Linked DNA regions of Homo sapiens: region 1 is linked to region 2. Evidence: fine-mapped expression QTL. A gene starts in region 2. The other region holds a variant in brackets. All regions are shown on one strand. Distances are from middle to middle. Region 1 overlaps NADK (NAD kinase). Region 2 holds the start of FNDC10 (fibronectin type III domain containing 10).

Evidence for each region. PIP is the estimated chance that this variant, and not a neighbour inherited with it, causes the effect.
Region 1: its variant is fine-mapped to the expression of FNDC10 in whole blood (INTERVAL, PIP above 0.99).

What each region holds. Positions count from the first base shown.
Region 1 is chr1:1,761,590-1,764,351 of GRCh38, forward strand. It overlaps NADK (NAD kinase), which reads right to left. Exons shown (of 12, transcript NM_023018.5): 3 at 363-446. Among named protein-coding and RNA genes, the nearest start is that of NADK, 15 kb to the right of the region's middle. The variant A/AAATG (reference allele first, on the strand shown) is at 1,170.
Region 2 is chr1:1,599,028-1,601,789 of GRCh38, forward strand. FNDC10 (fibronectin type III domain containing 10) reads right to left here and starts at 1,108. Exons shown (of 1, transcript NM_001242659.2): 1 at 1-1,108. The coding sequence starts at 988. The coding sequence ends at 308. It overlaps LOC105378586 (a long non-coding RNA gene), which reads left to right and starts at 406. Exons shown (of 3, transcript NR_147951.1): 1 at 406-589; 2 at 1,630-1,679. RefSeq lists enhancers at 1-261, 262-921, 922-1,581, 1,582-2,241 and silencers at 715-834, 1,135-1,184, 2,598-2,740.

The sequences.
Region 1 (2,762 bases), 160 kb after region 2:
AAAAGGCAGCCCTGAGGATCTCATGTGGAAGCCGCCACACCCACGGGCTGTGACCCGGTCTCCAGGCCCCGGCTCGCCTGCCGTCCACTTTCTCAAAGCCACTGGAAAAGCCACAGCTGGGGAGCCCCCGCTCGGATGCCTGCACTCAGGGGGTTCAGGGAGGACGCCCATGTGGCTTTTTGTTTAAATGACCTAAACATGTACTTCTCACATGAAGTGCTAGAATCTTCCTCAACACAGCGATCCCACAACTCCACACACATCCCGAGGACTCCCCCATCCCATGGCCCCCGGCACTCACATGATGGTCTAGGGGTTCTCTCCCTTCCAAGAACCCCCCGTCCTGGGGCCCCAGCACTCACATGATGGTCTGGGGGTTCTGCAGCACACAGGCCTTTGGTCCAAAAGTGGTCACCGGGCATGGCCCATGAAGAGAGCGTGTCCTCCTGTGGGGAGAGGGCAGTGTCAGAGCCACCAGGGCCTGAAACCAGACATGCAGTGACAGACACAGATACAGAGGAGGTTACACGGTAAGGCATACATGCAATTTGAAAGATGCCAACTCCATCTGCCCAGCAGCCACACAATAGCCCTTGGAAGGTTCTGCCCAGGTCCATGGCTGCACTGGAGCGGCACCTGTGAGGAGCACGCATGCCCACGCGCCGCTCAGATCATGACCCAAGCCGGGGAGAGCTTCAGCCCAAACAAGGAAAATGCCAGGGCCAGGGCCAGCCTGGGATCAGAATTCCTCAGTGTCTCCAGGACCCCTCTCTAGATCTGCATTTGGGACTCAAAACCTGAGACAACATCTCATCTCTAAATCGTCTAGATTAAAATTCTAGCACAAATGTTCACTCTGAACTCATGTCAATAAAAAAGACGTAGGCCGGGCGCAGTGGCTCACACTTGTAATCTCAGCACTTCAGGAGGCTGAGGTGGGTGGATCACGTGAGGTCAGGAGTTTGAGACCAGCCTGGCCAACATGGTGAAACCCCCATCCTTACTAAAAAAAGAAAAATTAGCCAGGCCTGGTGGCGTGTGCCTGCAGTCCGAGCTACTCAGGAGGCTGAGGCAAGAGAACTGCTTGAACCCAGGAGGTGGTGGTTGCAGTGAGCCGAGATCGAGCCACTGTACTCCAGCCTGGCTGAAAAAAGTGAAACTCTGTCTCA[A/AAATG]AATGAATGAATGAATGAATGAATGAATGAATGAATAAAAGACGCCAGATGAACGGCTCAACAACTTTCCTAGTGATTTAAACATGGCCAGGTCACAGTTAAATCACCCAGCCAGGGGCTGTGGCAGCCGCACGCGTCCTGGGGAGAATGCTGTCAGGACCGCTGTGCTCCTCAGGGTCCAGCACTGAGGCTGCCCTCGTCCTAGGTGCCCGGGAGCCTCCCAGTCCCTTCACAAACTCAGAAAACTTGCACACAGCTGGCCAGGCAACGGCCCAACAAAATCCTCAAGTCCCAATGCAGAAGAACGGCCTTCCGCTGCCTCGCAGGGCCAGACAACCCCAGGAGAGCCGTGGTGCCCTGAGGGCTGCTCCACAGGTGACACAGGCGTGGCCATCAGTGGTCACGGACTTGTTTACCTCAGCCTTTTAAAAATTGGTAAGTACAGGCCGGGTGCAGTGACTCACGCCTGTAATCCCAGCACTTTGGGAGGCCAAGGCAGGCGGATCACGAGGCAGGAGATTGAGACCATCCTGGCTAACACGGTGAAACCCTGTCTCTACACAAAAATACAAAAAATTAGCCGGGCGTTGTGGCTCACGCCTGTAATCCCAGCACTTTGGGAGGCTGAGGTGGGCGGATCACCTCAAGTCAGGTGTTCGAGACCAGCCTGGCCAACATGGTGAAATCCCATCTCTACTAAAAATACAAAAATTAGACAGGCGTGGTGGCATATGCCTGTAATCCCAGCTACTCAGGAGGCTGAGGCAGGAGAATCACTTGAACTCGGGAGGCAGAGCTTGCAGTGAGCCTAGATCACACCACTGCACTCCAGCCTGGGCGACAGAGCAAGACTCCATCTCAAAAAAAAAAAAAAAAAGAAGAAGAAAACGAAGTACATTACAAAAGAATTTTACTTACTTACGAACTGAAAAGATTATTGCGGAAAACAATGTTTCTCGAAGTGGGTGTTGGGATTTAATGTTTCCTTCCCAAGGACAGGCTATGCTTGGGCGTATTTGGCTACCTCCTCCCCCACCTCACCCTGAAGGCGCCTGTCACTCACTATGGAGGCGACCTCTGACCCAGGGCTGCTGTCATCAGGTTCAGAATGCAACAGAAATGGTGCATTATGCCAAAGAACCCACAGGAAAAAAAAATAAAACCCCAAAGCAATTCTGTTCACGCAGTCACTGCGCTGGGGTGGCCTGGAGGTACAGGACAACGACCCCCACTGACAACGAGGCAACGAGGCATCTGAGAAAGGCTGAGTGGTGACGTGGTGCCTGCGGGATGAAGGCAGCCACCAGCGCTCGTAGCCTCCTGGCTCAGGCAGCGACTCTGTAGACAGAAAACGTGGGAGTAGCCTGTTTCTCCACGGCTGCCACCACGTCAGAGGCGCTACAGGCTCTCCCATCTCACTGGGTAAGACAACATGCTTTCTAAGACTACTTTTCACCAAAAAGCCCCCCTTGCATTTGATAGTCGTGATCCTTGTTAGGCAGCGCCGGCTCTGGCAAGCTTCCACCTAAAACTCACCACATTTACCATCACCAGAACCGAGAGCACCATCCCCAGGCACCATCACAGCTGTGC
Region 2 (2,762 bases):
CTTGCTGGAAGGGGCTCCATGCCCTGGCCGCCTCTATAAAGGCCTGCGGAGAGCGGGGAGAGCCCTGGATGCGGCTGGCACAGCAGCGCAAGCCCAGGGGCCAATCCGGGGCCAGAGTCTGGGAGTCTGACGCCCGGCTGGAAAGGGCGTGTGATGATGCCAAAGTGCCGGAGCCGTCGCCGGCAGGTCCTCCTCCGCGGGGATCTTAAGGAGGCAGCAGGAATGAGGAGAGGAGAGCGGGCGGAGGACCTGGGAGCTCAGGCGCCCTCAGGCAGGTGGCGCAAAGATGGGCGGGCGGCCTCGCGCTTCAGGGGTGTCTGCGCAGGCCGGGGCGCGCGAGGGCCGGGCGCATGAGGTTCTCGGTGATGTAGGCCACCAGCAGGCAGATGACCACCAGCATGACGCAGATGGAGCCGCCCACCGCCGTCATGGCCACCACGATGTCCTGCATGCCGGCCGGCTCGGCGGTGAACTCCACGCACTCGGCCGGCTCGGGGGTCTCTGGCGCGGCGGCGGCGGGCCCAGCGCGCAGCGGCAGCGGCTGCAGGCACAGGCGGTAGAGGACGCTGTCGTGCACGTCGGGCAGCAGGTAGTCGCGGCAGGAGGCCCCGAGGAGCACGCGCTCGCACGGGAAGCGCGTGTAGGCGCCGCGCCACGAGCAGTTGAGCGCGAAGGCGCGCACGCGGCGCGCGGCGGCCGGGGCCAGGCGCCACTGCAGGAGGACGCTGCGGTTGCGCAGGACGCTGGCGCGCAGGGAGCGGCCGGCCGGGGCGTGCAGCACGCAGCCCGGAGCCTGGCAGCGGAAGCCGCGCGCGGGGCTGCGGAAGCACAGGCGCCCGCCGCCCGCCTCGGGGCCCTCGGGCAGCACCTTGTAGGGGCACCAGGGCGCGTCGGGGGTCGGCTCCCAGCCCGGCGGCGTCGGGGCGGCCGCGGCGCAGGGCGGCGGCGCGCAGGCGGCCAGCAGCAGCAGCAGCGGCGGGGCGCGCATCCTGCGGCGGGGCCACGGGGCGCGGCGCTGGGTCACGCGGGCCGCGCCGCCGCCGTCCCCGCTGCCCGCTCCCCGCGATCCCCGGCGCGCCGCGCCCTCCGCCGCCGCCCGCTCCGACCCGCCCCCGCGCCCCGTGCGCGCTCGGACCCGGCGCGGCGGCGGAGGCGGGGCCGCCCCTCGCCCCGCCCCCCTTAACCCTCGCCGGGCCGCGGCCTACGGGTGCGGGGGATCGGGGGTGGGGGGGAGGAGGGGGACGCAGCGAGGCGGCCGGAGTGCCGGTGGGGCTGGGGTGCGGGCAGGGGCGCGGGGTGCGGGCAGGGCCGCCGCTCTCCCGGCTTCCCGCCTAGTGAGCGCACCTTGGACCCCTGCGGCTTTTCCGAGCCGAAACTCACGGGCTGTGGCCGGCTTCGTTTCGCGTCGTGCAGCTCCGCGACCGCCCGTGGCCACACCAGTCGGGGACTTCGTGCTTTACGATGGGGGCGCAGCGGTCTGGCACGCGCAGGACCCCGGGCCTTGCACCCCAACGCTGGCCGCCCTGGACCCGCGGCGGGGACCCGCGCAGTCAGGGTACCTGCCCATACCGATGGGGTGGGGACCAGCACGGAGACTTTCCTTCACCCCGCGGCTTCTGTTCCTTTCAGGACGGACAGCGCCCACCCGGAGGAAAGCCTGACAGATGAGACTTCGCAAGGTGAGAACTCCCTTCGCTCCACACGCAGCGGAGGCAGCTGCAGGGCGCCGACCTTCCCTGCCTCATTGCGCCCCCTCCTCCTCCAGATGCGCTCTGGGGGGCCCTCCCGATGGCTGTGGGGAGGTCAGGGCTGGACAAAGGGAATCCAAAAAGCCCACCCGGTGCACTGAGTAGGTGGCACCGACGGGGGAGGGGAAGGCGGGACACACCCCAAGACCCCTGCCCCTCATTCCCGTCCCTGCATAGATCACCCAGCAACCAGGACACCCCTCCAGGGCCAGGACTACAGCCAGGGACTGTGTATGCAGACGTGGCCGGGCCTGGCCGGCCTGCCCTAACTGGAAAGGAGGCCAAGCCTCGCACCTAAGGCTGGGCTGGCACCTCCGCTGAGCCAGCTCTGGGTCTGCAGGGGTTGTGGGGGGCTCTCTGGCAACTGGACCATGAGTTCCTGCAACCCCTTCCTGTGCTCTCCTTGCCTGGGGGCAGAGTGAGGAGAGACTGGCTATTCTGCTCACGGTGTCCTTGGTCCCCGACCTCTGGATGGCCATGTCTCCGCCCCCCCACGGAGTCACCACCCAGCCTCACGAATTCCTGGTCATCTTGAAAAACCCAGTGCAGTGGTCAGGACCCCACAGGATCTCAGGGGCTCTGCCAGAGCCCCGGCCCAGCGGTCAGGCCCCCACCAACTGTGGTCACGGTGCACCTCCGTCCCCGGCATGGAGGGCCCTGACCCCCTACACCAGCCTGTTGGGCCCCTGGCAGGGTCTGCTGAGGCCTCTGCACCTGGCGCAGAGAGGTTGGGGGCAGAGACCTTGGGAGAGGCGCTCCCTGCCCCCTGCCCCCAGCTCCCACCTCTGCTTAGGAAGGGCAAACCCTGGGCTCTGACTCTTGCCCCAGCGTTGTGAGGCGACTCAGGGGCTGCCCCAGGGAAGCAGAGAGTGATGGTGACTCAGGGGACCCCCATGTCCTTGCCCAGAACTCCCCAGGGGTTCAGCCGACCTACTGCCACCAGTTCCCAGTGGAAGCCCCTCAGCCCCCAGGTGTGAGGGCATGGGCAGTGGGGCAGGGCAGGAGCCTGGATGA